Linked DNA regions of Homo sapiens: region 2 is linked to region 1. The links come from fine-mapping of genetic effects on gene expression. Tissue or cell type: whole blood. Region 1 holds a variant in brackets; the other region holds the start of a gene. All regions are shown on one strand. Distances are between the middles of the regions.

The links.
Region 2: CACHD1 starts here. The variant in region 1 is fine-mapped to the expression of CACHD1 in whole blood (TOPMed, PIP above 0.99).

Annotation. Positions count from the first base shown.
Region 1 is chr1:64,507,584-64,524,355 of GRCh38, forward strand. All of the region lies in intron 1 of CACHD1 (cache domain containing 1), which reads left to right. Among named protein-coding and RNA genes, the nearest start is that of CACHD1, 46 kb to the left of the region's middle. RefSeq lists enhancers at 9,221-10,036, 10,037-10,850. The variant A/G (reference allele first, on the strand shown) is at 7,790.
Region 2 is chr1:64,461,206-64,477,977 of GRCh38, forward strand. It overlaps CACHD1 (cache domain containing 1), which reads left to right and starts at 8,924. Exons shown (of 27, transcript NM_020925.4): 1 at 8,924-9,737. The coding sequence starts at 9,540. It overlaps LOC107984966 (a long non-coding RNA gene), which reads right to left and starts at 8,820. Exons shown (of 2, transcript XR_001738100.2): 1 at 7,981-8,820; 2 at 7,068-7,165. RefSeq lists a silencer at 9,134-9,253 and enhancers at 11,053-11,838, 11,839-12,624.

The DNA of each region.
Region 1 (16,772 bases):
GGGAGAACTGGAGTAGGAATCCGCAGACAGCCCAGGAGATAGAGAATGTGGAAACTCAGGTTGTATTAGGAACACGAGCCAGGAAGAAGTAAGAATAAGTTTTCAGGAGCTGAGAGTGAGAATGGAAATTCAGCTCAGACAGAAAATAGCTTCTTTTTGATTTGTCAAAAATGTTATATTTAGTGGAAAAAATACACCTTTAGGAGTCAGAAGACTTGAGTTCAAACCACCAGTATGTTGCCTGGGCAAATCATTTAAAGTTGGGGCCTCCATGTCCTCATCTTTAAATCTTAAAGTAGAAAAATGAATGTGTCTCATCTCCTTCTGTATTAGTCCATTCTCACACTGCTGTAAAGAAATATCTGAGACTGGGGAATTTATAAAGAAAAGTGGTTTAATTGGCTCAGGGTTTCATAGGCTGTACAGAAAACGTGGCTGAGGAGGCCTCAGGAAACTTAAAACCGTGGTGGAAGGTGAGGGGGCAAAGCAGGCAAATCTTCACATGGCCAGAGCAGGAGGACAAGAGAGAGAAGGGGGAGGTGCTACACACTTTGAAACAACCAGATTTTGTGAGAACTCAGTCATTATCATGAGAAGAGCAAGGGGGAAATCCACCCACATGATCCAATCACTTCCCACCAGGCCCCTCCGTCTTCCAACATTGGGGTTTACAGTTCTGCATGAGATTTGGGCAGGGACACAAATCCAAACCATATCACCTTCTTGATGTGTTTTTATAGGAATTACATGAGAATGCCTGGAGAGGTATTCTTGTATTAAGTGTAACGCACTACACAAATGCTGGTGTGAAGGTGGGTGAGAGCTTCTGGTGGAAGAAATAGCACTGGATTTAGCAGGGGCTATGAGAGCATATGATCTTTTTTGTGTGTGTGACCTTGGATTAGCAAATTTATCTGTCTAAACCTCAATTTCCGCATGCGTAAAATGGGGATAATCATGCCTACCTTAAATGAAATGGACCTGCCAGGCAAAGCACATATGAGTTGGGTCTGTCCTGGAAAACTTGTTTCAGTGATTGACATTAAACACCTGCTGCCCTTATTTAGATATATTCCTCTCAAGTCCCTAAGTTGTTCTCTCACTAAGCCTGAGAGTGAGAGGGCTAAGTAAGATAGAGACGTAGTGCATTTAGAGAACCATACTCAGTCTTCTGTTAAGACACTACCAGGTCTGACACTGGCTTACTGCCGCAGGCTGTTTATTACTCTTAAGCCCAAGACAACTTCTGCAGTCTGGATAAGTTGCCTCCCTAGTTCATCTTTTTATCCTTGAAAAAGGCCCAGGGCTCCCAGGCATTTTCTTTTCTTTGGTGTCTCCTGCCATTCCCCACCCCCAGGGTTCTTCTCTTTCTATGATTGGCTGCTACTCCCCTCATCTTTGCTGCCCAGATGGCAAGCACAAAGGAAAAAGGTCTTTTTTTCCTTTTAAGGCTTTTATTGCTAATTATAAGAGAAAAAGCAATAGGGCCACAGGACTGAAAATTTAATGAAGTTCATACTCTCTTTTTTTCTCTGTTAGCTTGTTCCTAACTATGAGTATGGATGAAAAATGCTCTCTGCTTTTATTTGTGAGGGTTGGGGCTGCTCATCTCTTTGAACTGTCATTAGCAAAAGGCTCTATAACTCCCTCTACCTTGGCATCTTTCATGCCTGTGTTACCCGCCCCTTGTAGCAAGTGTGGAGTTTTCATTTTTTAGAGATCTCCAGACTTGTTAATAACAAGTTCACTGGGCCTCAGCTCTGCCCAGGAGGGACTAATTGCAAAGTAAATCCCAGGCCATAATAAGGAATTGATGAAAGAGCACCATCTTTAATCCTTTCTTTGGCTTCAGCCACTTGTTATTAAAAAGGTGTATTTGAATCAACTAAAGATGAACAGCTTTAGTTCATTTGTCTTTCTTGGCTTAAAAAAATGGTAGGAAGGAAAAGGATCTCAGGGTAAAACACTCAAGTTATTCAGTAATTTTATAAGTCTTTATTTTTCTTTGACCATGAAATCAGCCCTAGGGTGCTTTTTAAAGTAGGGAAGTTTTGTTAAATCTCCAAGGATAGAAGGAAAACACTACAACATTATATATAAATGCAAAATTAAGACTGTGAAGTAGATTTTATGATATTTTTTCAAAACCTAATCTAGATACCTATTTTAATATTGTGACATTTGCATCCCTTCTCAGTTTATTAACAATAGGAGAGATTTATTTAAGACATAGCAGAGACAATGATTCTCAAACGAATACTCCTAGATGTATTTTGTCTTGCACGATTACTGTTAAGATTTTTCAGTTTAGGATTTGGAAGAAATAATACCTTTCAGAAAAACATATTTTTTAAATGCTGAAAAACTGGCAACCCAGATAGAACATGCCCCACATACATACATTTCACATTTATGATAGAATAGTGAAGAGATATTACAACATTCATATAAAACCTACATTTAGGATGACTTAGAGTGCTAGTTAAAACTGCTTTTTAAGGAAAATTTTAATGGGAGTCAAGAGCCAGGAGCCTCAGGTGAATTCTCAGTGCTGGTACGTGACCAGCTGCGTGAACCTGAGCAAATCAGTATCTTCTCTTGTCACAAAAAAGGGATGCGGAGGTAAAGTAGAGTTGCTCCAACAGCATTAAGATGAAGATTCAGTGAAGTTTTGGACATTTATTGCTGTTTCAGCTGACTTGCATCTTTGCACCCTTTCAGCTCTAGGAGCCAATGGGAGCTACAGGGGAAGGCAAGTGATCCTCTCTCCTGCCGTGGCAGCTGGGGCAGTATGTGTGTTACATACACTAGGCCATTAAGGACTGTTACCTGGGACTTTGAGCATTAGGCAGCAATAGAAATGGGACAGTCAATAATTTTAAGGTTATGGAGAAAAAAAGAGGGTCCAGTGACGACGGAACAGCCAGGTATTCACAGTCGCCTTTCAGCAAGGTTGTTTAGGTAGCTTAATCTCCTGGGCAATGTTCTCAACTACCTAACCACTAAGTTTCTGCCTCTTGTTGTGTTTCTAGTGTCTTTCTAATAACTCTTTCTTTTTTCTGATTAAGTTCATTTCTGTCTTTTATTTTGTTGTTCTGGTGGTCATTATTCAGTTTTGCACAATTTTTAAATTGCCAAAACCAGAAATTGCCAGAGAGATTGGGTCACTGGGACAAAGATTCAGATACATGCAGACAATGCCAAGTGCTCCTGTAAATCTCTTGCAAGATTGTGGTATGATTTAAATAAGATGTTGCATATTGGAGTGCTGTGGGTCCTTGAAAGTTCAATGCATGTATAATTGTTATTCCTGGAGGTTGTAATGAGGGGAATATCTATGGGATTAATATGGCTGTGGGTACATTGGAATTTAGAGTGTCAAAGGCCACTGGATTTGGTAATGGTTCTGGTCCTTGTAGTGGAGAATCCATTTTCCTTTTGCTGATATCTATGTGGCAGGTAAAACGCCTTTTAGATCATAGATATTTTGGACTGTGCTTATTTTTAGTGTACCTAAGATCTCTACAGGTATAGGACATTAAAGCAGATGGAGTACGGTATGTAGTAGGTTTGCAAATGAAGGAGACTAATCGTACTTCTGCTGTAGAGCAGGCACTGTACTTTAATCTGTTTTTTTCCTTATTTGATGTTACTTCCTCTTATTTTATAGATGAGGAAATCCTCACGAGAGGAAGTCTTAGTACCTTGTCAAGTATCAATTAACTGTTATAAGGGTGATTGAACATTCACATCCAGGGCTTTTATATTTCAAATCCCTGGTTCTTTCCATTATAGCATGCTAGGATCATGAGAAAATAAAGAAGTGGAAGAAAGACCAGAGAAAGGAGTAGGAATTGCCTAGGAAAATAAACAACCATCAGGTTCCAGAGAGAGGTTATTAGAAATCTAGAGTTCAGACAAAGAATCATAAAATTGCAAGATTAGAATGGACCTTAGAGAAGTAGAGCTCACCACCCTCTCCAGCTCATCTCTCTCTCCAACATCTCCAAGTGGTCACCCAGCCGCTTCCCGCTACAATGATGGGGAGTGTCTTACTGCAGAAGACAATCTGTTCCATCTGTATTTAGCTCTGGCCACGAGGAAATTATTCCCTATGAACCCCAGGATTTCCTTTGGCTCCAAGTTTACAAAGCAATAATTAGCACTTTGAGTTGGGAAAGCTAGACAGCAAAGTGGTTATGAACCCCAGCTCTAGAATACAATTGCCTTCCTTTGAACTACAGTTGCCTTCCTTTGAACTTGAAATGGGCTTTCTCAGCTTATCAGCTGTGTCCTTTTCTCATCTGAACATGGTGGCCATCTCACAGTGTTGATTTGAGAGTCAGATGAGATAAAGCATTTGGCATAGTCACTGGCATGTATAGTAAGACTTTTTAATAAGGTTTTATATATAAAGTTACTGATTGTTATTATTTTCCATAACTCTATGAGGTAGAAATTATTATTCACACTTTCTAGATCTTAGAAACTGAGGCACCTGCCTGATGGTCACAGAAAAAGCAAGCAGGGCTGGGCATGGTGGCTCAAGCCCGTAATCCCAGCACTTTGGAAGGCCAAGGCGGGTGGATCACCTGAGGTCAGGAGTTTGATACTAGCCTAGCCAACATGGTGAAACCCTGTCTCTACAAAAAATAGAAAAATTAGCTGGTCATGGTGGTGCACACCTGTAATTCCAGCTACTTGGGAGGCTGAGTCACAAGAATGGCTTGAACCCAGGAGGCAGAGGTTGCAGTGAGCTGAGATTGCACCACTGCACTCCAGCCTCGGTGACACAGTGAGACTGTGTCTCAAAAAAAAAAAAAAAAAAAAAAAAAAGCAGAAGCCCTCTGGAGTTCAAGGGCAAATGATTCAACTTCTGCTCTTCCCCTTTTAACACTTCCTGCTGTTCCTCCTTTACTTTGAATGGAGAGAGGCTACTGCAGGCCAACTGGAGTAACTAAGACAAAATAACAGTCTGCAGGTGTGGCTAGGGACAGACACACACACCCCTGCCAATTTCGGGCTAAATTCAACATTTCCACTCTTCAAGTTGCTGTACCTTCCTCTTTTCTTTCTCCTAAAGAGGAATTTTCATTTGAAACTGTTATTTCAGTCATTTGTATTCTCTGCTCATCAGCACATGGATTAGTTGTAACTTCATGTAGTTGTTTTGAATAGCTGATACAAAAAATCTTTTGGCGGGGTAGAACTTGGTTTTTCAGTATATGCATGTAAGTTTGATATGTGGTTAAGTTTTTTCTGCCACCATTTAAGTGACTTCTGGACTCTTTCATTATCAGGTAAGATATACTTTATATTAGTGGATGTTAATCTCTGACCTCTGGATATTTTCACACAAGTTCATGCCAAACAGAGGCACAAATTTCCATCCTTGTTCTGTTTTTCCATTCTCCATTTCTATTGTCACATTCTGACAGCCTGCCACCAGAGTCCAAATCTTTATTCTGTTGCAAGCTGGGTTACCTTGAGTAAACCACATTAATTTCTAGCCCAAGATTATCCATCTGCAAATTTACAGCAATATTTCTGTGTTCATCTGGGTCATTCTAAGTCAGGTTTTCCCAACCTTAACACAAATGACATGTGACGATGGCAGGGGAGGGGGCTGTCCTGTGCATTTTAGGATGTTTAACAACCTCTCTGGCCTCTACCCATTAGACACCAGCAGTAACTTCCTCCAAGCTGTGACAATCAAAAATGTCAAGTGTCCCCTGGGGGGCTAAATCTTCCCCAATTGAGAAATACTGTTCTAAGGTGAAACACTGTTTTATGTTGAAAGGCTGCTGTAAGCCATAGAGCTATAAGATAACTACTAGATATTTTATTAAATATCTGCTTTATGTAAAGCACTGTGCGAATGCCATGGAGAAAAGGAGGAAGTAATCATGTATAAGGGCATCCTTGCTTCCCAGCAGCTATGGTGGGTGGAAGTGATACAGGTAGAATTTGATAAATCTGTAAGATTCAGGAGATATTTCAAACACAAGGCATTTGACATTTGAGTTGCATCTTGCCAGGAATGGTAGCCATGAAAAGGACTCAAAGGAAAGAGTGCTTACTTTCTAGTTTTTTAATGGGCTGGCAGTCAGAAAATGGAAATGAGTAAAGTAGGCCTTGAATGCCTGTGACACAGCTGGAGATGGTAGGAGCCACCTAAAAGAAACAGTTGCTGTTCAATGGAAGCCACTTGTTGGCAGCAGGAATGTTAGTCTGGGGATGCCAGATCTGCTAGTTTTTCTAAAGATGTTGGAAATCCAGATTTTTATAAGATGTAAAATTTCCTGAATTTTAAACATTAGCTCAATTTAAAACAACAACATGTGTGAGTCAAACAAAACACCTATGCAGGTTAAATTAGGTTGCCAGTTTGCGGTTTCTGTTCCAGATAATCTTTTTAGGAGGGACACTTCTCTCATCCTGTCTCTTAAAAAACAATTGGAGGAAAAGTTAAATTGGTATGTTCCTTCATACTTTATACAATTCATTTCCATCCGTGTTTTACTTTCTCTGTTTGAACCTTAGCTATCAAGATAAAGTTTAGATCTGAAGTGTTGCTCTAAGTAAAATAACGTTTTGGAAACTGTGAACATCCCCCAGTTAAGAATTCTCCAGGGTCTTCAGCTAAAAGTGAAACCTGGAATGATTGCCAGTGAATGCTTTTTGTGGCCTTGGAAATTCAGAGTGATTTATCACTTGTTGGTAATAACTGGAGGCCTCTATATACAAGAAGGGAGTTAAAGAGGCCAAAAATAACAAGTCTAACCATATGGCTCTTTTCAAGAGGTGTCCATATGGCTATCTAGTTAAAAAGGACTCTTGCCAGCTTGACTGTGAGTTTTCTTTTTTGTAGCTCGATATAAAAGTCTTCTAGCTTTAACATTGTAACAAAGGAATTCCTAGGTTTCACTTCTAGGTTTTGAAAAACTGAACTGGGCAGTGGGGGAGGAATGCAGTTGTAGGCAGCTGAGCTAGATGCATAGTTGACCATAGGATCATTGGTATTTACCACAGCAGCAAAGCTATGTGATAACTCCTATTTATATTCTTTTTAGTCTCCAGCAGTAGTTTAGCTTTTTATGATGGTGTCAAAGTTCCAAGTCTGACAGTCTAACTCAGTGTGCCTTCTTGTTCTCAAGAATGGAACATGCAGTACTTTGTCAAATGCCTTGGTGAAAATAAGATATGTATTAATTCTTATAATTTCTACCTGTATATTAAATTAAGTGGCATAATTTGGCCTGATTTGTTCTTACAGAATCCAAATTTGTTTTTAGTAATTACAATTAAATAACCTATTCTATAATATGCTGAGAAAGAAGCAAAGTTGACTGGTTCCTAGGTTCCGGAGCTCATATTTGCCCCCTTGGTCATAATGGAGACATCTTGACTATGTGTAATCTCTAAATCTCTTCATTGGTATGCTGCCATCCATGTGATTTTGGTCATACTGCATACAGTATTGGATTATTTAGGAGGAAAATACAGAGAAATAAATGTATATGCTTATGGCATAGAAAAGTGAAAATTTTGGATCTAGATTAATCCAAATGGTATTAATTCTTAGATTTTCCTTCCAGCAAATCCCGAATCCCCATTAATACTAACTATTTAACAATTTCTACTAATTTTAATTGAACCAGATACTTACAAAAAATAATTGCTTTGGAGTGTCCTTTGGAAAACACAATTGGGGAGCTATGGAAGTTATGTTCAGGTTATGACAAAAACAGACAAGAAATAATACAAACCCTACTACTTTGTGCAAGAG[A/G]CTGAATTTAAATTACCCTAAGAGCCTCCTCAACTCAGATGTTTCCAGTATGATTGGTGTGACATTTGTTCAGGTTCTTTAGAATATAAGCATATGCAATTAATAATGAAAATGAATTCCTATCCTTGCAAATTCAAAGTATCTCAAAGCATTTTTTCCCTTCTTAAATCATTTTGACTATTAGTATTTGTGTTGATATGGCTTCCTCACATGAGAAATGCTATTATGCAACAGCTGTAGTTGTGCTGCCTGAATGCATGCCAGTTCTGTTCAGATTGAGCCACAGGGACTGCTTGTTAGCTCCCTAGCTGCCTGGGAGAGAGGGTAATGTAAAATTAATGTATGAAGAAAGGCCTGTTATCTGACACTATTTGGGGATGCAGGTGGTCTGAAGTGGTGTGCAGAAATTAAACTAACATGCTAATCTTTCTACGATTATAGAAAGGTGGCTGGGATTCATGGTTTCAACTCTTGGTATTAATTTTAAAAATTGGGAAGGGCATTGACTTGACTCCTTCTTTTGCCTAGCTCTACTTCCTAAACTTGAAGCATGTATAAAACTTGAGATTATCAGATACTTTCATTTTTTGGAATTCAGGGCATGTTTCATAGTTTGGAAAGGAAGTGGTAGAAGAGATTGTTAATAGGATTTTCATATATAGGTTGCAAATATCTGAAAAAAATATTTGTATATTCAAGTAGTCTTTTTCTTGATAAGTAGCACATAAACTAGACCAACATGCAACATTTTCAAATTAGTTTTAAGTTAAGGACAAAGTAACATGGGTTCTTCTTCAGCAATGCAGTCCTAATTCTAAATATACCTGTCCGTTTAACATTTTCTTTTTTCTCCTGGTGATTCTGCAATCAATTATCGCTATCTCTCCATTCTCATTTTAGCCAAAGCAAGCAATTTCAGCATTTAATGTTAGCATTGCATCCTATGATGTTCAGTACATAACTTGCAGTAGCATTTCTCATGTGGTTCTAGAACAGCTGTTTTGCTGATCTGCCTCATCTCTAGACTTGGAACCTGTCGTACTGCCTAACAGACCAGCTTACGGTGTTCATAAACAAAACACCCGGCATAATGCCTGGCACACGCTAGGTACTTAGTAAATGTTTACTCATTTATGAGATTCTGTCAGTGAGGCTGTCACGTTGGAAAAAAGGAATGACCAAATGATGAGCCAGACTCGATTATGCATTTTCATGAATATTATCTCATTTAATCCTTAAAACAGTCTTGCACGATAGGCATCATTATCTCTTGGTTTAGCTTATTACTCACACATTGACCTCAGAGCTGGTTAGGGGGAAGAGTCTGAATCTGAACCCAGGTTTTTATCTTCTTATTATTGTTCTTTCTACTATACCATAAAGCATATTCTATAATATAGAAACATTTCTAGGGAAATTTTTTTCTGGAGACTTGTCTCTGAATTTGCTGGAGCAATTCTTTCTTGTATTTTAAACTGTTCCTCCTAGTAAACAAAATTGCAAAACTTGTCTAGCAGAGCTGGAGTGGGAAATTCAGCATTGCAATTAACTGGAGTCAGACAGACTTGGGTTTTCATTCTGACTTCTCCACTTACTAGCAATGTGATCTTGTGCAAGTCATTTAAGCCTCAGTTTTGTCATGTAAATTGGGGATGCTGTTAGTACCTATTTCATGGGCTTGTGATGACATGAAGCGGGGAAAGCACTTGTTATATGTGTGAGACATAGTAGGTACTGAATGCTAGCTGCTGTTATTGTTAGTGAATAAGTGACATCTCGTTTATTCAACAAATATTATTCATTACATTTGATCCTAGCCAAAAGGCCAAGAAGTGATCTGCAAATATTTTTTCAGTGTATACTATGTGCTTTTAGTTCTACTAATTCATCAGTGATCAAAACAGACAAAAATCCATTTCTGCATGGAGGTTACATTCCAATTGCATTCCATTGGGGAGAGCTAGACAATAGACATCATGAATACTGGGAAATAAATGATATCATATGTTGGAGAATGGCTAGTACTATTCAATAAAAAAGAAATAAAGGAGAATTAAGTGAGTGTGGGACAGGGGAGAGTTGGCAGGGAGCTGTGGGGTTGCAATGAAATAAAGTAGTCACTGGAGGCCTCATTGAGAAAATGATAATTGAGCAAGAACTCAAGGGGAGACAAAGGAGTATGCCATGTGGATTCTCTGGGCAGAGCTTGGCCCAGTGGGATGAAGAGCAAGGAGGCTGATGGGGCAGGAAGACAGTAAGAGCATCACTAGGGCTTTAAAGGCCATTGTAAGGGTAAGGGGAACCTGTGGGGAATCTTGAGCTGAGGAATGACGTGATTGACTTTAGATTAAAATTGTGATCATTATCACCATGAGCTTCTCCTCAGGAGGAGGGACCTGGACAGTGTAGCACCTTTACCCGATTACTCTTCTTTCTCCTATTAGCTTAACCTTTTACACTTGAAAAGTATATTCCACCACCCCAGGGTAGCTGCCCTGCCTACTCTATGTCATTGATTGAACTTGGCAGTCCTGTGGCTGTAATGGTTGTATTCCTTGGGAAACAAAGGAAATGATTAGATCTTAAGAGGGAAAGAAAGTAGAATCCTGTGGTAGCACAGCTTGTGATCCTCTTTGAACATGACTTGATCTCTTCCAGGCTTCCCTTACTGAACCAGGAAACCTTTGTAGAGGATCCTGGGAGGTGTTGGTTTGGTTTAGTGTTTTCTAAATGTTTGTATCTCCTTACGGTGAGAGGGATCCATTATGGAGCAGGGGGAAGAGCTTAAGTGTAGTAATTTGTCAGCTCATGACCTGTGCTTAACTTCTTTCCTCTAAGATAATAGCAGCGGACATACTCTCAGCACACATGGGGATGGAAAACATTTCTGTGCTACTTCTCCAGTGAAAATCAATGACTTTTTTTTTTTTCACTTTAAGTTCCGGGATACATGTGCAGAATGTACAGGTTCATTACATAGGTATACATGTGCCATGGTGGTTTGCTGCACCTATCAACCCATCATCTAGATTTTAAGCCCTGGCTTTCAACATTCAAGATGGTCTTCCATTATCTCATTTATGTCCTATTATTCTCAATCAAGTTAATTGGAAATCTGTTTTTTTAGTGCATGTACAGGAATATGGCAATATCAGGGAATGGTAGAGAAAATGGAAGCAGGTCTAAGATGCAAAATTTAACACAGAATCACATGGATTGGTGGAGTCAGAGGATCAAGGTCCATGCCCAGCTCTGTCAAAGTAGTTGTGTGATTGTGCCATGTCTAAGCTGGAGTTTCTTTGTGCCTCATGGGATAGGAAGAAAGTAAGGTATATAGATGGCTAGTTTTGTGACTCCAAATGATGGGAATCACTTTTCTGGTGAAGTTATTGCTTGAGAAGGGAAAGAGGATGGGACAGTCCTTGTTTAGCCTTTTCTGGATAACATCAGCATGCCTAGTGTGGGTATTTTCCTGCTGCCTTATTCCCTGGGAGTTGGAGCCTTTGTCTTTCTGTCAGGCTATTTACAACCTATTGTGTTCTAGAACCCCATAGATAAGGGCTTAGTGACTCCTTAGCTTGTGCCTTCCAACCTTAGTGGTTCTATCAATATCTTTGTGTCCCTCACAATACCTTGAATTTCCCTTCCTCATTATGTTAATTATTTGAGGTAATTTTAGAGATAGGTACCATTTAACTGAGTGAAAGCTTTACAATTGAGGGGTTACTCATTAGCAGGACCTGGGTTTTGTTTTTAATCTCATTAACCCCTTGTTACCCATTTGATAACAAAGACTTCAAGGAAGAATTTGCTCAAAAATCTCTGGGAGACAGTAATAGCTTCTTGGGCCTGACTGATAAACTTTTTGCCTCCAGCAATGGAAATGTGGGAAAATTCCAGATGCTAAATGATCTGGCTTGGACCCAGCAGGTTGAGGTAGTGGAGCCTTTCGATTGAGGCACAGCCCAGGACTGCTGCAAGGGAGAGGCACAACAGATACCATAAGGAGGTCTGATTTCTGAAAGGAGTACCATAGAAAAATTATTGATCTGTCCCAGGCCTCAGTTTCCTTGTCTCTAAAGTGAAAAGATTGACTGACTTAGTAATAGGGAACTGATTTTATTCTAATAATGTAAAAAATACCTACCAAACTATCTGGTAAGTCTGAATTAACTTTTTTCCTTCCAGCAAAAAAAATAAAAAGAAAAGCATTACCAGTGACTGCCCATTAACTATCAATCAGATCCTCTGAGCAGTTCTAGTTCACCAGAGTTAACCAGAGTTACTAAGCTGGTGTAATTCCTGGCTCAAGCCAAAAAACTTGATGTTTTAGTTAGTCTTATGACGAGCACATTTTGAGTTTTTTTCTTTTAAAAAATAAAATATTGCAAACAGCTCTCGGTCATTACCACCTGTTGTAAGCTGATCTAAGCCAGTTCGGTTATACACAACTCCTAGGTGCTTTTTTCTGGTGAATTTTGATAGCTGCCAGATTATTTGAGGTGAGAGGTTTTGCTACTATCCCACAACCTTGCCACCTACTTATAGCTAGTGCAAGTCTGAGACATTCTGCTGCACATACAGACGTTGATTAACAGCCGTATATCAGCCAGTAGGCACAAAATATTTCTGCAACATTACTCTCTATGCTTGATAAAGTCCCAGCTGTCTTCTTTTAGTTGTTCTGCTCACCACTTTGCATGAAAGCTGTACTTGTAGACATTACAACATTCCAGAGGAGAGTTCTGTTATCTTTAATAGTCAGCATCAAGCAACTGGAAGTCCTCCAACTGTGCCGGACTCATGTCCACTTAGGGGACAAGCCTATCAAGGCTACACTCTTATTCATACAAGGGTAGAGGTATTTCTAGAATATTTTGGCCAATTCTCATAATTTGAATATATGTTTAAGTTTACCAGGGATGGCCCATTTCTCACATTTATATTGCTAGCAAAGAAGCCATTCGTCTCACACACCCACACAAATCCACCTCTGACATTCACTTTGCTAATTGGCAAAGGGCCTGGTGTTAATGAACATGGATGGTGGAAATATTTGCAGTGTGTCTTTCTGGAGTATGGGCTTCATGCTTAGAACACGACCTGCCTACCCCTAGAGTGCATTCCTGAATATAATGCCAACCACATTTGAGTTGTAGTTTAAACTAATTAACTCACATGCAATATCTCATTACCTATACTGAATTATTGTTAAGTTAATTAGGCATCCTAACATTGCCTTTGGAACCCCACTGTGGAAACCACTGTTACTAATGTCACGCTGTAGGAGTAGACTTTGAAATGATTTGTAAGGATTCTTTTGCTTAAAAAGCACTGATTAACTTCCACATACTCGGAACCATGTCTTGTCACTGGGTGGGAAAACATATTAGTTACCATTTACTGAGCACGTAGCATGTGTGCAGTCCTTTCTGTACATTGTCTCTACTCCCCCTCTAATCAACTGTGTGAAATAGAGACTTGGCTCCATTTCATAGATGAGAAAACTGAGACATGCAGTGGGAATCTTTATCTAAACCTAGGTTTATCTCTACAGGTAGGTTTATCTCTGCAGGTAAGGCTTTCCTATTAGTCCTATTGCTGCATAACAACTTACCACAAACTCAGTGGCTTAAAACACCACAAATTTATTCTATCCCAGTTTCTTTAGGGTAGAACTCTGGGCTAGGTTCTCTGCTCAGGGTCTCACTGGACTGAAATCAAGATGGCAGCTGGTACTTCAGTTCCCTTGTGGGCTTGGAGTCTTCTTCCAGGCTCACTGGTTGTAGATAAGATTCATGTCCTTGCTGTCGTAGGGCAGAGGTCTCAGTTTCCCTCCTAGCTGTCATCTGGGGGTTGCACTAAGCTCATGGAGGCTATTTTGTGTCTTGCCCTGTGGCTACCATAGACGGCTCACAACATGTGTGGTGTTTGCTTGTGGGCCAGCTAGAGTATGTCTTTGATCCCCTCTGGCCCTGGCCAAAGAAAACTCTGCTTTTAAAAGGTTCATGTAATTAGTTTAGGCCCATTGGATAATCTCTGAATTATCTGAATTAACTTTCTGAAAGTTGCTGTGCCATGTAACATATATAATATGTGGTCTTTTGTGACTGACTTCTTTCACTTAGTTTAATATCTTCAAGCTTTTTACAGGCTGTGACACATATCATTACTTGATTCTTATTCATGACAATACTATTCTATTGTATAGATATACTGTATTTTGTTTATTCTTCAGCTAATGGACATTGGATTGTTTCCACCTTTTGGCTATTATGAATAATGCTGCTGTAAGTGTTTGTGTAGAAGTTTTGATATAGATATACATTTTCATTTCTCTTGGGTATATGTTTTTGAGTGGTATTGCTGGTTCATATGGTAACAGTTTAATCATTTGTGTATCTTCCCTGGAAAAATGTCTATTCAGATTCTTTGCCTATTTTTAAATTATCTTTTTATTGAGTTGTAAAGATGCTTTATATAGTCTAGATACAAGTCTCATCAGATATATGATTTGCAAATATTTTCTCCCATTCTATGGGTCATCTTTTTAATTTCTTGATGGCATCCTTTGATGCACAAAAGTTTTTAATTTCGACAAAGTTTATTTTTCCTTTGTTTCTCATGTTATTTGTGCCATGTTTAAGAATCATTGGCCAAATCCAAGGCCATGAAGATTGTCCCTGTGATTTCTTCTAAAACTTTTATAGATTTAGTTCTTACATTGAGATATTTGATCCATTTTGAGTTAATTTTTACATATGTTGTAAGGGTCCAACTTTATTCTTTTACATGTGGATATCCAATTGTCCCAGCACTATCTTTTGAGAAGACTCTTCTTTCCCCACTGAATGGTTTTGGCACCCTTCAAGACCATAGATGGCCATAGATGTATGGGTTGAAACAAGTTCTTTTCTTTTCCTCTCAACCCCCACATTTTTTTTTTGTTTTTTTGAGATGAAGCTCGCTGTGTCTCCCAGACTAGAGTGCAGTGGCATGATCTCGGCTCACTGCAACCTCTGCCTCCTGGGTTCAAGCAATTCTCCTGCCTCAGCCTCCCGAGTAGCTGGGATTACAGGCACATGCAACCACGACCGGCTAAATTTTGTATTTTTAGTAGAGATGGGATTTTACCATGTTAGCCAGGCTTCAACTCCTGACCTCAAGTGATCCGCCTGCCCGCTTCAGCCTCCCAAAGTGTTGGGATTACAGGCATGAGCCCTGGTCGGAGCAAGTTCCTAAAGTTCTGTTATGTAAGATGTTATCAATGGGGGAAGGTGGTTGAAGGATACAGGGAAACTCACTTTATTATTTTTGCAACTTGTAAGTCTGAAATTTTTTCAAAAGAAACTTAAAAAAAAAGTCCTTGAGGCATAGGCAAAATTTAGTAGATTTGGATTCATTTAATAGTTTCCTCCTAATCATGAATTTAGGAAAATCCTAATGATGAAAATCCCAGTGAGAAAAATGGCTTCCTGTATTTTATTCTGGTGTGGTATCCCTTCCAGGTGAAAGAACATTGCATCTTGGCTGCAAGAGAAAGAAAAGATCCTCAGTAATGTTTGGAATGATTTGAGTCCAGGGAAGTAGACCATACTGTGTCATAAGTGCTGGCACAGTTTTAAAACAAAAGCATAAGTAGCCATGATGGCCTTCCCTTCTGTTTACTGCTGCCTCCATCTTCCCCAGTAGAGCAGAATTTGAACCTGACTGGGTATTTGGTGAAATTCTGGAATTGCTATTAGTGTGACAATGGTATTGTTACTTTTATTTTACAAAGAGTCCTTATCTTTCAGAGTTTTATGCAGACTAATTGTAGATGACACAATATGGTATCTTTCATTTTATTCAGAAATAATCTAGGTTGGGGAAAGTGAGCATATAGATGAACAAGATTGACTATGAGTTGGAAATTACTGAAACTAGGTAATGGGTATGTGGGGGTTTATTATACTGTTTTGTCTTCTTTTATAGGTTTTCCATAGTTAAAAAATAAGTTTTCTAGGGGGTTGTTTTTAATATAGCATTGAGGCATTTGAGTGGCATCTCCATTTGGAGCTGGCTTTGCTTTACATAAAAGTGAGTCTTTCTGAGTTTGGATGCTTGTGCTATCTAGGTCTGGAGGAGCATTTTGACAGACCTGTGAACAAACAGTTCCTGGAACAAACACTTTTAGGAGGCTGGATCCATCTGAGGCTTGCTAGAGCCCTGACAGAATAAACCTGTGGCTCACAGTGCCGTTTTTCCTTCATGTGTTATTGATGTTAATCAGCCATGCCCTTGGTTGCAGGGTTATGTGAGTCTTTTTCTGAAGCTTTTTAAGCCTGTGATTCTGTAAATCTTTGTACTTTTTAAAATGTAAGTTGACATATAAAATGTATAAAGCTGATAACTAGAAAAAGTCAGAAATAGTCTGTGGAGAATCTGCTCACTTGGGGTCGAACGATATTCTTTTCCAATGATTGTGCTGTTTGTAGAAGAGACTTTCACATGCTTTATTCTTTCTTGCTTCCTTTTTCTAATGGCTATGGACCTCAGTAAATGGAGTAGATGAGTCTTTATTTATCCAAGAACAAGATTCTTGCATAGAATTGTTATAGCTCTGTATTCAGGTGACTAAAGCTTTCAGAACAATGTTAAATTGAAAAATCTGTACAAAAAAAAAAGAGACACCATCTGGAAATTATTCTATGCTTTATTCTTGGTTCTACTAGTAATGAAACGTGAGCATTCCAACTTCCCGTAATGGTTAAACTTTGTGATGTAAATGGTGCCAGGCTCTGAATAGGCTTGTAAAGGTTTTGCTGACTCTTTTGTTTTTGTTTTTATGTGCTTTCAATGAAACTATTTGTGCTGCTTTAGATAAAAGGAGGAGCAGCTTTGAGTACCTCTGGATTATTTTAATATTTTAAATAATGACAAGCAAGTATGTGAATGAATATTGATTACTGTATGAATAATTTGTATATAGGACAATTTTTCA
Region 2 (16,772 bases), 46 kb before region 1:
TGCCTGGGACCTAGTGAAAGCACAATAAATGTTAACTATTATTATTATGACTCATAGAGTTTTAAGGATTGAATGAGATCATTTCATTTAAAACATACAGCATCACCCAAAGGACTATAAATCATGCTGCTATAAAGACACATGCACACGTATGTTTATTGCGGCACTAGTCACAATAGCAAAGACTTGGAACCAACCCAAATGTCCAACAATGATAGATTGGATTAAGAAAATGTGGCACATATATACCATGGAGTACTATGCAGCCATAAAAAATGATGAGTTCATGTCCTTTGTAGGGACATGGATGAAATTGGAAATCATCATTCTCAGTAAACTATCGCAAGAACAAAAAACCAAACACCACATATTCTCACTCATAGGTGGGAATTGAACAATGAGAACACATGGACACAGGAAGGGGAACATCACACTCTGGGGACTGTTGTGGCATTGGCAGAGGGGGGAGGGATAGCATTAGGAGATATACCTAATGCTAAATGATGAGTTAATGGGTGCAGCACACCAGCATGACACATGTATACATATGTAACTAACCTGCACATTGTGCACATGTACCCTAAAACTTAAAGTATAATAATAATAAAATTAAAAAAAATAAAAAATAAATTAAAAAAATGTTTTGCCACCTCAAATTAGTTTTTAACAAAATTAAGTGGGGTGTAAATAATTAGCTAATAAATATTCACCATGTAATTAGCTATTTCTAATTTCCTTGAACTTATGTATTGTTTTAGACATTTTCAAAGAGAAATACATAATATGCTTTTCTAAATATTTACTGTAATGAAATAATTAAAAATGTTTCAGCACACACACACACACACACACAAAATACAGCATCATGCCTAGAACCTAGTAAGCACTCAGAAAGTGTTAGCTAATATTAATAGTTATCTATTAATATTAATAGCTATCTATCTACAAGTGCCTCATGGCCTTTCCACTTGCTGTTCCCTATGTCTTGAAACTCTTCCTTATAATATTAATATAAATAGCTAGTATTAATAGATAATTATTAATATTATTTCCATATATAATCATTGTTGTCTGTGTTTTGTTTTGTTTTGTTTTTTGAGACAGTGTCTTGCTCTGTCACTCAGCTGGAGTGTAGTAGTACAATCTCAGCTCACTGTAGCCTCAACCTCCTAGACCCAAGCAATACTCTCACCCCAGCCTCCAGAATAACTGGGACTACAGGCATGCACTACCACACCTGGCTAATTCTGCTTATTTTTTGTAGAGATAAGGTCTCACTATGTTGCCCAGGCTGGTCTCGAACTCCTGGGCTCCAGGGATCCTCCTGCCTCGGACTTCCAAAGTGCTGGGATTACAAGCATGAGCCTCCACACCTGGCCTGCCTGCTTTATTTGTTTTGTTCCATCTCTTGTATTGCAGCCTCAATAGGTGGTTTAAATCTCTTATTGCTAATTCACTTTGTATATTTCTATGTCTTGCCTCCCTAGCCAGTGAGTGAGTGCCACAATTCTCTATGGGTTTCTTGCATTTTTGCATGCCTTGTGAGCAAGATGTTAACCACTCTTTTGTTCTGGACTATATTTTCAAAGACTTCTGCTTACTGAACAGCCTGGGCAGGTAGAGATAGTGTCTTTCTTTAGAGCAAAGGGAAAATTTGCTTTCTGTTCAATATATTAAACATATATATTTCTGGGGCAAAGGGCAGTTTTGTTTGCATTTCATCATAAAAGATTTGGGCTATCTAAGCTTGGGGTTTCTCTCTTTCAATACTACCTGTTGTATGCAGGTGTCACCTGGCTCTCTTCATATTGCCCTGTGGAAACTGGGTCTTGGAGGACTGGCACAAACGCTGACACTCTGGCTACTGCTATCGTTCTGAGCAATAAAGCCCTTTGTCTCTAATTCAGGAGTCTCATATCTTCTGCCAGCATCATGAGGCTGTGGTGGGTTGACTTGTTGGCTTGCAAATGGCATAACCTTTCACAGTTCCTAAGAGTGAAAGCAGATATTTGAAGGAAGAGCGTTCAAGACGGAACAGCAACAGGAAAGGCCGTAAGGCACTTGTTGGACGTAATATTCTCTGTCTTGATTCTCTGTCCTTTCTGATACCTGTAAAGTTCTTAAGGACAGCCAATCATATTCATCTTTATATCCCTAGCACCCAGCAAAATCATTGGCATATAGCAAATGCTCAATAAATGTTTGTTGAAATTAACAGGAAAAAATAATTGCTGCTTTGGAAATAAGGATGTTTCTTGGGCAGCGATTCATGGGGTGCCAAATAATATAATTTCTTTTCTTTTTTCTCATTCAGAGAGAGGCACATGATAGAGTTGCAAAATAATTGAGCTGGGAGTCAAACAGACCTGGGTTTCCATCCCACCTCTGCTGTTACTAGCCTGTAACCTTGGTCAAGTTACTTTACCTTTCTGAGCCTCCTTTTCCCTGTGTATAATATTGCAATGATCTTGTCTTCCCTATTTTGATGCTTAAATGATAGAATATAGGAAACATACTAAGAGATTAAGAAATGAGTCCGGGCATGGTGGCTCACTCCTGTAATCCCAACACTTTGGAAGGCCGAGGCAGGTGGATCACCTGAAGTCAGGAGTTCGAGAACAGCCTGGCCAACATGGTGAAACCCTGTCTCTACTAAAAATATTATATGGGCATGGTGGCAGGCACCTGTAGTCCCAGCTATTCAGGAGACTGAGGCAGGAGAATCTCTTGAACCTGGGAAGCAGTGGTTGCAGTGAGCCAAGATCCTGCCATTGCACTCCAGCCTGGCTCACAGAGTGAGACTCCATCTCAATGAAGAAAAAAGAAAGAAAGAAAGAAATGATATGCTGTGTGTCATATACAGCACCTAACCATAGAAGGGTTTTAGTAACTTGTACCTCTCATGGTTATTCAACCTTTACTGTCTCCCAGTTTGAAGGGAAATGGGAAACCTGATGATTTCTTAAATCAGCAGAAGAATGTGAAAAACAGAGAGAGTCTGTGTTCTAAGATTCAGTCTAGACCATTAACCATTTCCATTTATTTAACAACAAGTCGCTGGGCATGGCAGCTCATGCCTGTGATCCCAGCATTTTGGGAAGCTGAAGTGGGAGGATCATTTGAGCCAGGGAGTTTGAGGCTGCAGTGAGCCAGGATTGCACCACTGCACTCCAGCCTGGGTGACAGAAGGAGACCATGCCTCAAAAAAAGATTTTTTTAACTTAAAAATTAAAAAAAAAAAAATCGTAAGTTGGCACTGGCTGAGATTTGTAGTCTGCTAGAAATTAACAAGTGAGTGTTAATTTCTGCCCTAGGAATTACCAGTTCCATTCTCCTGAGCTCCCTGAGTTCACAGGTTCGATATAGTTTGCAGCTGGTTATTGTTTTATTTATTTATTTTTTATTTTTTTTTGATACGGAGTCTCACTCTGTCACCCAGGCTGGAGTGCAGTGGCATGATCTTGGCTCACTGCAACCTCTACCCCCCAGGTTCAAGCGATTCTCCTGCCTCAGCCTCCCGAGTAGCTGGGATTATAGGTGCACCACCACGCCCAGATAATTTTTGTACTTTTAGTAGAGACAGAGTTTCACCATGATGGCCAAGCTGGTCTTGAACTCCTGACCTCAAGTGATCCGCCCGCCTCAGCCTCCCAAAGTGCTGGGATTACAAACTTAAACTACTGTGCCCGGCCCAGTTATTGTTTTGAATAGGAGACCTGCCTGTAGCATTAGGCTGAGAATTTGTTGCTAACTTGGGTCTTATGTCCACCTCAGAGCATGTAAAGGGAATCACGGTAGCTTGGGAACTCCATACCACATTTCTGGAATTCTGGCCAAGAGTTCCTCAAAACAATTTCATATATAGTTTTTCTGTGATGAAGATCTTGGACAATGGGTACCATGAGGCGGCCTATCACTGAAGTAGCTTTATAATTCCCAAAATATGGAAGAGCAGCCAGTTTGATGAGGACTCTTGGTTATTCTTTAGCAGTCAAGGAGCAAAATTGTTACTGTAGCTCCTTGCATGAGAGTTATTGATTCATGGATTTTTCTAATTTTTCCCCCAATTATTTGGTTCAACAATTCTTGGATTTCTACTCTGGGTCTAGAACTATGCTAGACTCTGTGGCAGTGAATAAAACAGACATAGTTCCTGATAGGTCATTCCTCTGTAGGTGGTTAATAGAACACACCATGAGAAACATTGAGATGGAGAAAACAGACTTGCAAATGGACAATTGCAATATTAATTGCTGGAGCTTCTGGAAAGGAAGCAGATAATGAACAAGTGTCCAACTCAGTCATAAGCAAGGGGTAGAGGATTACTCTGTGGAGAATATAAAATCATCAGACAAGTTTCATGGTGATCTGTGGTCTTCTAGGGACAGTTGTGACCCACTTACCAGTCTTTTCATTATTTTGTAGTTCAAACAACTGCACAGTCAATAGTGTCCTCTCTGTATAGAATGGATGATTGAACTTATCTATAGAGTTACATCAAGACAAAAGACAGAAGAAAAGGGTCTATTATTAATAGAACATATAGACTGGATTTGGAATGAGAAAGTTCTGAAATCAAGTCAGTTCTGGCTCTTGGTGACAGTCTCTGTTACAGGCCATAGGTTCTATGTACTCCACTCTCCCCTGTCTGTGATTGGCTTTCTTAGCTCATTCATGGGGTCTGCTCCTTCACAGCTTCAGCTTGCAGAGTCACACTGCTACTTAATGAGTGTGTCAATGTACCAGGTCCTTTGCAAAGTGTTTTATGTGCCTTTTCACAAAAACTTTAGGTCGCATTATTTACATTGTACGGATGAAGCAACTGAGGCTAAGAGAAGTTAAGTTTTACAGAGACGACAGCTAAGAAGTATTGTCCTTGGGATCCAAACCCAGATTTTGTCCAAGATTCACACTCTCAGCTTTGCTATATGACTATGTGTGTGTGTGTGTATATATGTATACATACACATGTATACACGTGTATATATACACATACACATGTATACACGTGTATATATACACATGCACATGTATACACGTGTATATACACATGCACATGTATACACGTGTATATACACATGCACATGTATACACGTGTATATACACATGCACATGTATACATGTGTATATACACATGCACATGTATATATGTGTATGTATATACATACACATACATACACGTGTATATATGTGTATGTATATACATACACATGTATATATGTGTATATATACACATATGTATATATACACATATATACACATATGTATATATACATATATACACGTATACATATACACACATGCATATATATGTATATGTATTTGTATATATACACACACGCATATATATGTATATGTATTTATATACAGCCATCTAATAGCTATATTTATTCTATATCTATATCTGTGTACATATATATGTATACAGAGGTGTATACATACATATATGTGTGTGCATATCAGGGAATATATAGCCATGTATATACATCTGTGTATATATTTGTGTGTTTGTGTGTGTATGTATATATGTGTGTATATATATGCCTATATATTTTCTGCTATATACATTATGAGATTCATGGTTCCTATGGCCCCCTCTCATATCCTTATAGTTTTAACTACTACTTCTAACTGCTTTTTCCTCAGTATTTCCTAACTAAAATTTTTTAGAATGAAGTCTTGTCCCAGTTAATATTTCTGCCATGCCTTAGGTGCTGTAGATTGGTTGCCTTGATGTCACATATCTATCCTGGTCCCATCAGTTGACCCCCCCTGGGAAAGAATCAACTAGTACTGAGCAGAGATTGATGGGTAGGACAATTTCACTTATATGGATGAGGAACATTAAGGATTGGCAGTATATCACACAATAAGCTTTTATTGGTCTATCATGTACCAGTACACATGTGGGTAAATGTTCTCTCTGACGTCAGACTAGTAGCTCAGAGCTTTTGCTTTGGTGTTTGAAGGCCCAGGTTTGTATACTGACACCACCATCTAAAAGTTGTATTACCTTGGGCAAATAACTTTATTTCTTTGAGGCTTTTCTCTATTGGCAACATAGGAATAGCCATAAGTTCCTTTCCGGGTACTGAGACCCTCCTAGCTATAGACACTGGGCTAAATAGAGCTCCAGGATGCATGAGTTACCATCCTGGCAAGCTTGCTTGCAGTCTAGCATTAGTTCATAAGACTAATGTCAGGGCGGGGAAGGGGGGTCTATAAAATGCATATTCCAGGACCCACCCCCCACCTCCAAAGATTCTGCTTTAGTAGACCTGGAATAGAGCACAGGATTTGCAGTTTATTAAGTGTCCTGAGGCTAGTGTGTTTGGTGGATCACACTTTGAGAAACAAGGTGGAGAAATCAAAGCTTTCAAGTGGAAAATCACAATGTTGCTTGTTAAGCGCTGAGGGGACATTAAGTGCTGAGAGAAGAACCAAGAGCTTTGGAGCACCAAAGAGGAGCCGTAAACTCTGTGGGGGTAGGTGTCACAGAAATGACACCTCAGCTGAATAGGGGACCTAGCAAGTGGAGAGAAGGGGAAGAATTTTGAGGCTGCCATATAGGTGTTTTCTGGGAGTGGTGAGGCAACTGAGGGGCACAGTGGCTACAAAAAGGCCAGAAGAGCAAACAGGGTCAGAGCACAAAGGGCCTTGTTTGTTAAGTTTACTTATCTGTGATGGGGCATCAGAAATGTTTAGATTAGTGAATGACAAGTTGAGATTTGACTTTTAGAAAGTTGATTTTGACTTCCATGTGAAGAACAGAATGAGGGGGAACAGAGAGACTGCACAGAGACCCATGAGGAGACTGGTCATAATACAGGCAAGCTGCAATGAGGAACTGAAGTCAGGCCATAGGATGCAGATGGACAGCGGGGGATGGACACGGGAGATATGTTGGGAGCTGGGGTGGATGGAGAGTGCGTACCTAGCTTGCAGAGTGGGTGACATCCACCTAGATTTGCAGCCAGACATGGATTTAGGTGGAACATGGGGGAAAGCAGTAATGAGTTTTCATTCAGGTATATCTACTAGAGAAGTCAGGAACTTGCTAGAAAAAATGGAGATCCAGGTTGAGCTTTATTTAGAAGTATGATAAACTCGTGTTTGGTAATAATTGAAGGCATAGATGTGGTCGAGAGTCCTCAAAAAGAAGAACCTTAGAGTGAAAAAAAGGTGACATTGGATTAGCATCCCAAGAAATAGGACCTCAAGAAATACCAACATATAAAAGATGGGCAATAAATGCCTATTGTGAAGGCATTTCAGAAGGAGTTTAGAGATGTGTGACACCTTGGTGATGGTAACCTTGAAGAATCAAATAAAAAAATAATGCTATATGTCATTATTATTTTTGTTCTTTACTCTTCCACTAATCACATGGACTAATATGCTTTCTCTTGCGGAGTGTCATGTCAAAGGTACAACAATTTAAAAAACGGAAGTTAAAGGATCATCTTTCTAACAAATGTCAGCTCAACTCCAGGAATAGAAGACATACAGGTAGGTTTTTACCTCATTATTAACTCAAGAATCATTTTTCCAGTACTACTATGTGCTTGTGTGGATGATGTGGAGGTGAAGGGATTGGTCCCCACACTCAACATGCTTGCCTTAGTATGTAAAACAAACATCACAGGCTAGGCGCAGTGGCTCATGCCTGTAATCTCAGCACTTTGGGAGGCCGAGGCAGGTGGATCACCTGAGGTCAGGAGTTTGAAACCAGCCTGGCCAACATGGCGAAACCCTGTCTCTACTAAAAATACAAAAATTAGCAGGGGAGTTGAGAATGGAGAAGTGATCTCAATGAGGTAAAAATGGGCCAGGGAGAGCTTACAAGAGAAGATGACTTTTTAATACAATATAGTCAAAGATGTAAAACAGAAGGTTTTGCTGTAAAATGAAAAGAGTCCTAAATCCAGGTTCTAATCCTGCTACCACCTCTGCTAGGTAACCCTGGACTAGTCCTTTAACCTTCCAGTGTTGGCTCTGTTCTCCAGGAACCTGCAAGCAGCAACCACACAGGGCTTGGAAGGGAGAGTGGCTGTTCTCCACACACAGCAGGTTGACTTGTTCCAGGTGCTTCCAACAGGTGATTTCTCAGCGAGCCTGAGCCAGTAGTCAGGGACAAACAGGAAGGTTAACCTTGCCTCTCCATGCTTGGGAGAACAGGTGTGTGCGCGGTGGACTCCGGTTCAGTCGTTCTTTTTCTTTTTTCTTGCTTTTGATGGGATCAGATGGTTCATTTCCAAAGAGAGACAGAGAGAACTGTATCGTATTTAGGAGCAATAGCCTTGGAGTAAGACTTGTGCTTAAACTCTGGATTTGTTTCTTATCCCCTGGGTGACCTCTGGCAATTTATTCCACCTCTCTAAGCCTCAGTCTTTGTTACCTAAAAAATTGGGATAAAGATACGTACCTCCTATGGCATGTCGCGGAGATTAAAGGATAATGTGCACACCCCCGAGCCCAGTGCCGGGCACACGGTGGCTGGTTGCAACAGAAATCTGTGGGTGGAACGCTAGCTAGCCATTGTGATGAATAACATCAAGGAGAGGGAGTGGACCTACACATGGCAGTCCCCTTCTTCCCCAACCGCTGCCAGGCAGACAGCCAGCGTCCTAGAACTTAAAGGACTTTTCGATGGCTGGAACCTGGGCCGGGTGGGCTCCCTGGCGCGGACGGAGGCGGGGAGCGCTGGCGGGGGTCTCCGTCTCCAGCCACGGGAAGGTCCGTGGGCTCCCCTGCCCGGGCTGGGCCGGTCCCCGAGCAGAGAGAGAGGCTGGTCCCCCGGCCCCCGGCGTCCCGGGGGGCAGGTTCTGAGGCGGGAGCCAGGGAGAGAGAGGAGGGGCAACCGGGGGAATTTCCCCGCCTCTCTTGCTGGTTCCATAAATCACCGCAGCCGCCGCGGCGGCCCAGCCGGGAAGTGCACAGAGCCGGAGCGCAGCGTGGTGGCACCAGACGCCTCCCTTTCCCCACCGCTTGCTTTCTTTCTTTCAGTTGTGTGGGTTTGTGAAGCCTCCCCTTTCCCTCCTCGCTCGGGTGGCTGCCCCAGTCTCGCAGCCCGGCCGCCGCTCCTCTTCCCCGGGGGCCGCCGTCAGTCCTCGCCGCCGCCTGCTCGCTGCGCTGGGACTCGCAGGAAGCGAGAGCCGCGCGGCTCGGCTCGGGCTCCGACTCCGACTCCGATTCCGACTGTCAGCCCCGGGGCCCGCGCACCCCGGCCTGCGGGCGCCCCTGCTCTCGGAGACGCCCTCTGCGCCGCGGGGCCCGTGTGGGCGCCGGGCTCCGGGGACCGCTCGGGCGGCCGCCTCCTACCCCCACCGCCGCGGAGCCCCGCGATGGTGGCCGCCCGCGCTCCCGCGCTGTAGCCGGGCGCCCCCTAAGTTTGGGAGCCTTCGCCACCGCGGCGCGGAGCAGAGCCTGCAACAGAGGAAGAAACTTTTGCGGGGTGCGCCGCGCTTTTGCGGGGGGCACCTCCCGCGGCCCGCTTCCCCGCGCCCGGAGCCCGTCGGCGGGGAGTGGGGGGAGGCAGCATGGCCCGCCAGCCGGAGGAAGAGGAGACGGCCGTGGCCCGGGCGCGGCGGCCGCCCCTCTGGCTGCTCTGCCTGGTCGCGTGCTGGCTCCTGGGCGCCGGGGCCGAAGCCGACTTCTCCATCCTGGACGAGGCGCAAGTGCTGGCGAGCCAGATGCGGAGGCTGGCGGCCGAGGAGCTGGGGGTCGTCACCATGCAGGTAAGTGGCCCCCGAGCTGGCCAGACATCCCGCCTTTCTCCTTTGCTCAAACTCCCATCCCACTCCCGGTACAAGTCCCCTGGACTGTGTGCATCGGCTCCTTGCATACATAGAGCCCGGCTTCCCGTCGGACCCCTCTGTCCTCTGCACAGACCCCCTGACAATACACCAACTCTTCTTCCATGCATTCGTCTACCCCTGCCCTTCTCTGGAGAATCCCCTGCCCTCTGCACGGAACCCACTTGACCCTGCACAGCCCCCCTCTTCTGAGTACCAGCGCCTTCATCTCGTCAAGGATTCTCCAGTTTCCTCGCACGTCTTCTCTAATTTGCACACATTTCCCATGTAGGCTTGTTTTCACCCTGCCACGCCTGCAAACTCCCCCTTTGTGTCCCCATCCCAGAGCAGCCAGCCCCGTCTGGCTCGGACGATTTTCCGAAGTCCCCACCCCACCCCCTTGACCGCGTCCTCGCGTCCTCGCGTCCTCCCTACCGAGGCGCACCAATGGGCGCCGGGAGGGAAGGCGCCGCAGAGTACGCAGCTGCCCCGGGGACACCTAGGTCCCGGCGGAGAGCGGCCCTCCGAGTGGGCTCCGCGCTCCTTTCCCCTCCCGGGAGCATGGGGGGAGGGGCTGGCCTGGTAGATTCTGGGTAGACTCCCGACTCTAATCCTGCTGGGGGACTCTTTTTGTTGCTTTCCGCATATCCTGCTGTAGTTTGCGTGCTGTCTGCTGTATGATTTTTGTTTCGTGTGTGCCTTTTTGGGTCGAAGAAAAAGGGAGCAAAGTGAATAAGGTTCCCATTTCTCCAGATTGTTTATCATGTCCGTCCTCCTCGGGAGAGGAAGGAGGGCTGACAGAAAAACTGCCCGCAGCTAGTAAGGAATCCTGATGATGTTACTCACGACCAACAGTAGTAAAAATTGCTGAACACCAACCACCTGGAGATTCTGCCCCGCTGTTATTTTAATCCACTTGGCCATAAAGGCCCACTAGATTAGGAGAGGTTGAGATGACATTCCCAGCTTGAAACCTTTGCTATAACATTCTTAGATAAAATAACACCATTCTCTTACACATTCTAACAATCATGGGGATGAATGTGGTCTTCGAAAGATTGAAGTTTCCAAGAATGCGTTCTTGGAATAGGTTTCTGATTTCCATCCTACTGTGACCACTCCTTCCACCTCCCACCGGGAGAGGTGTTTAAGTCACTTTTGGGATTTAGGTTTCTTACTTCTTTCTTCTTCGTCGCGTCGTCCTCCTCGTCTTCTCCTTCTCTTCTTTCTTCCTTCTTCTTCCTCCTCCTCCTCCTTCTCGTTCTTCTCCTCCTCTTTCTTTTCTTTTTCCTTCTTCCTTCCTCTTCTTTCCACTTCCCCACACCAATCTCCTCCCAAGAGGTTACAATTTTCTTGAGGAAAGTTCCACAGACCTTCTCTACTGTGGGGAAAGACCACCGGAATTTTTTAAAGGGTGACATGAGGACTGAGGAGTGGATGGATTTTGAAAGGTAATTTTGCATTTATTTGCAGACACCCAGCCCTGAAGTGCAATGGAGTTGGGTTTTCTTGATTTGCATAATAATAGATAAGCTTTTAAGATGCATCATTCAACTATGCCGATCTTTCAGGTTCAGATTCAGTTGCAATTTTTTCCATATGCATTTTCTGATTTCTGATTATTGCTGAGTTCTTAGGAGTGAAGTGACTTTTAGAAAAGATAGAAAACTAGGATTAAAAAAACAGTGGTGAATATTTCCATTCAGAGCACAATTGTATTTTTGCATTGAGGCACCTCTTTTAATAAAGGAAACTTAATATATTGGAGTTGTGGACTCTGCTTGTAGGATTTGTAGGCACTTGCCACCTTCACTCCATCCCTAGGGCTGGACAAGAAATCTTAGGATTCCCCCCTATCCCGCCCCCCCACGCCTTTTCCTTGTAAGCTAAGGACTTGCTTTTTCTAAGATGCTGACAGCCATTTTACTGTTTCTCACCCAGTCCTTGACAAAAGGTGAAATTGGATCCCAACACATTGTCATTCAGGTAGGGATCCTAAGCAAATGTAGTTTTAAAAGGCTGCCCTGTTGAAAAAGACACTTCGAAAAAAAGCTCTGATCGGTGGGGGGTTTGTGCCCAAATGGTCCTTTATCTCCTCCCAACTGGCCTCTTTCTAACACCTTTGCAACCTCATTGTGGAAACGGACCTCCTGTGGACAGGGTTTTGTCTGGCAAAATGTGAAGTGGCTTCTCTCCTTTTTTGAAAGGAGACACACATACTGTATTTAAATTCTGCTTCTTGAGCTGTACATTGATCTGCCACTTGCTTCTAACTGGGAAAATTGCAGAAAGTGTCTCTTTTTAATTTAGTTAGACTGGTCGGAAAAAAAAAAGTCGAATGCAGGTTAGATTTTTGGCCTTAGAACAAAGATTTTGAGCCCCACATTCTCATCTGTAAACCTTTGGGATTTGTTCAGTGGGTCTGAAATTATGTGGGTTTAGTTACCTAAAGTGTAGGTTATATAGCCCTCCCTGCAGCATGATGGATTTTATAGAGGTGGAGCTAATCTGTTTTTCAGAGGTAAGCCTCACATAGGCTTTAAGGTGTGACTTCCTACGAAGATGGTCAGGGTGGGGGTGGAGAGGGGGATAGTTGTGTCTCTTTGGAAAAGAATGTCTTCCCTTGCTTAAGGGATTGACTCCTTTCATTTGACCTTGGCATTTTGAGCATAGTACAGGCCTTTCAGGACACCATCTCACTTTATGAGAAACATTCTATAGGCCTCTTTATATGTAAAAAGCCAATGTTCAGACTTTTATATTGCTTCTGCTGCTGAAATTCTCGAAAGACGATTTTAAAGTTTGAGAAATTATAAAGTAGCCCTCAAACCAGGCCTGTTGTTTTGCAGCATTTCAAGTGGCAGCACTTACTGCTTATAAGGAGTTGCAAGGGGGTAATTTTACAAAAACAAAAACCTAGGCTTCTTTTAGCACTATAGTTTCCCATGACGTAGTTTTCGCACTTGCTGATAGAGAAGACAGTTTGAAAAGCGTCTACCTTGAAGATTTTCTTGGAAAATTCTCCAGTGGGGGCTGCCTACTCATGATTTTTGTTGTTCCTTTTTAATAATGGACAAAATATATTTTAAAAAATCTTTAAATAAGTTGTGCCAACCAATTTTGCCAGTACTCTGGGAAAGCTGTCACTGAATACTGTTCCCCTGACAGCAGACATCATACATCATGGATAAAAGTCAAAAACCTAATCATCATCTCCTCATGGGTCTGGTGCAGAGGAGCCATGGTGGCATTGAGGTCTGGGAGCAGTAAGTGGCTGTGTCCAGGGAGACGGGTTTTTGCCTATTTATTCATGCAACAAGTTTTTATCAAGCAGCATCGTGGAGTGGAAAGAGCCCCACATTGGGTAGGTAGAGACCTGGATTCCAGCTCTGCCATTTGCAAGTTGGGTGATTTTATCTGTAAAATTGAGGATGGTGATTCTTCCTCAAGATTTGCTCTGTGGACTTAAAGGAAATAGTGCATGTAAAGGCATCTGTTAATGTTAAGCCAGGGCTGAGAAATATTGATGGATGTGGTTGTTCTCAAATGGAGAAATGATTATTGGAAGCTTACTGAGCATGGAGCTCTATGCTGGGTATTCAGGGGATTTTACAAGGACGTATTCCAGCACAACTCCTTAAGGAGTTTACATTCTCGAGGAGGAGATAAGATTGCACAGGTAAACCAGCTAAGTAACAATGCCTGCTTGTTAGAAGGCATATCTGGCTCTGGGAGCCATTTCGCCAGGCACTTATAAGGCCCATTTAACATTATAGGACAGTACAGGCTTCCTAACAGCAAGGGCCTGGCACAAGGCCAGTGTGCCTGCCTTAAAGTTAGCCCAACTCTGCTGGGCTGGGCACACTTACTATGAACTTGGCAGACAGACCAGCAGGTTGGTCAGACAGCTGCTGGATGAGGCCTGGGAGGGAGGGAGGAGCAGGGTTTCTTCCAGTCAGGGCAGAAGAAATACCAGAAGCAAGAACTGGAGCTTCAACTCCAATTGAAGAAAAAGCAGCAGCTAGAACAGAGGCATGTTCAGGAACTGAAGGACTCAGCTGGGGCAGAAGTGTCAAAGATATAAAGCAATGTTGTAAATACTGACTACAGCTGGAATTAAAGAGCAACGCTTCTTTGTATGCAGTAAAACAACAATGCACTAAATTCCTTCCTTTTTTTTTTTTTTTTTTTCTTAAGAGACAGGATCTTTGCTCTGTCACCTAGGCTGGAGTGCAGTGATGTGATCATAGTTCACTGTAACCTCAAACTCCTGGGCTCAAGCAGTCCTCTTGAGTAGCTGAGACTACACACACATACCATCACACCCTGCTAATTTTGTAATTTTTTGTAGGGATGGAGTCTCACTCTGTTGGCCAGGCTGGTCTTGAACTCCTGGCCTCAAGTGATCCTCCCACCTTGGCTTCCCAAAGTTCTGGAATTACAGATGTGAGCTACTGTGCCTGTCCTGCATTATTCATTTTCGCATATATCCAACAAAATTTTGGGGAGCTTCTGCTCTATGAAGGGTCTTGGGTTAGATTTTATTTATTTATTTTTTATATTTTGAGATGGAGTCTTGCTCAGTCACCCAGGCTGGAGTGCAGTGGCGTGATCTCTGCTCACTGCAACCTCTGCCTACCGGGTTCACGCCATTCTCCTGCCTCAGCCTCCTGAGTAGCTGGGTCTACAGACGCCTGCCACGACACCCGGCTAATTTTTTTTGTATTTTTAGTAGAGACGGGGTTTCACCATGTTAGCCAGGATGGTCTCGATTTCCTGACCTCGTGATCCACCCGCCTCGGCCTCCCAAAGTGGGGTTAGATTAAACTGGCAATCACAGGTGACTAAAGCCTAGTCCATGCCCTTAATCTGTCAACTAATGATGGAAATAGACACAAAAAGAGGCATTATGATACAGGTGGTTAGCGAGAGACATAGAGGCATTACACTGCAGTAGGTTAGTGCAGTGGTAGAGAGAGAAACAGGATATTATGGGAGCATAGAGGAGCCTTGCCCAAGCCCCTCTGGTGAAGTCAAGGAAGTTAGCTACTTCTCCATTGTCCTTTTCAGTGAAATGTCCACACACACAGGCCAGTCCTGAAGGAAGCAGCAGCAGCAGCAGCAGCAGCAGCAGCTTCACACATGAAGGGTAGCCAAATCAGTAGTTCATTAGATGTTTCTGATTCCTTTGGTGGCACTGGACAAGGTAGCTCGTGTATCTTGAACACCTGAACAGGACTCTGACTCCTGTGCCCCTTCATATGGCTCCCATGTCTCATTTCTTTGGCCATTATCCTAGAGCTTCTGTGGTTATTGGACATAAATATCTTGCTGGCTCTATTATAACTGCAAGCTGATTTGCAGTCATGTTTGGTAAGATGTGTAATTTCCTCTAAATCACATGCATCATAACAGGACAGGGCTGGTTTAGAATGATTTGAATGTGTAATTACGCAATATAGAATATTTTCGAAGGAAAAATCACCTGTATATGCAAATAATGTGATTTGATTCTACGCCTTGTGTACCATATAAGCCTTAGTGGAAAAACTGCTGTGTTGCTTTCTTTTGAAAATGGATATTTAGAATAGAAGAAAACTGTCCATTGACGGATGACTCTGAGTTGAACTTGTCAGGAATGAGCCCAAGAAAAAGCATGTTGAATGACTTCTGATAAACTGTCTCTGTTGTGCTTAGCACTTCCTGGACTTCCTTCTCACTAATGCCTATCTTTGCTGGCCTTATTCCTTGTGCTTATTATGTTTTTCCTGCCAATAGTACTTGAGTCTGGAAGGGCTTGGGGGAGGGAGAGGAGATGGTTTTACACTTAGTAACATGTTGCTGCTATTTCTGGTTGCTGCTTGAGGAGTTCCTTCCTTGAGCTTAAGTGGATGAGCAGGCAGGAACCTTGCAGAACTCTGGAATTTTGGTATTAGATGGAGTGGGATTTATTTTAGATATGCTTGGACCTTGGAGTAAGAATTTATTGAAAGTCAAAATATGAAGGGACAACAGGGACAAGAATTTTGACTCAGCCAGTTAGTTATTAACTGTGTAACTTCTGTCATGTTATTAAATCACTCTGAACTTTAGTGTCTTTGTATTTCATGTAGCTAATGGGAGTAAATATATTTTAAAGGATAACCAAGTGTCTAGCTCAGGGCCTAAGGTAGGAGCAGTCAATAAACAGAAATGTAAATATGAGAGCAGTTCATTTAGTGCCAGGGCACAGAACCGGGAAGGTGGTAAACATGTAGCTCCTAAGCCTGAATGAAACTGAAATCTAATTTGTAGACCTGCAGATTTCAATATGGTCAATCCTCTGCCCCCAGGTTTTTAAGATATGGTTCACGGACCTTTGGATGTGGTGCAAAGCCATGCTTGGGGCTTTCTGAAGAAAATGCTAGACCTGGCTAGTCATAGTTATTTCTTTAGTTTTAAACTACAAAGATTTAAAAACATATACAAAAGTAAATAAAATAGCATATGAATATCCACATACCTCTCACCCAGCTTAGACAGTTATTAATTGATGGTCAGGCTGGTTTCATCTCTACCTCTGCCTCCACTTGCTCTTCCCCCCAGATTATTATTATTATTATTATTATTATTATTATTATTATTATTTTATTTTATTTTTTTTTTTGAGACGGAGTCTCGCTCTGTCGCCCAGGCCGGACTGCGGACTGCAGTGGCACAATTTCGGCTCACTGCAAGCTCTGCTTCCCGGGTTCATGCCATTCTCCTGCCTCAGCCTCCCGAGTAGCTGGGACTACAGGCGCCTGCCACCGCGCCCGGCTAATTTTTTGTATTTTTAGTAGAGACGGGGTTTCACCTTGTTAGCCAGGATGGTCTCGATCTCCTGACCTCGTGATCCACCCGCCTCGGCCTCCCAAAGTGCTGGGATTACAGGCGTGAGCCACCGCGCCCGGCCCCCCCAGATTATTTTGAAGCAAATTCCAAATATCACATAATTTC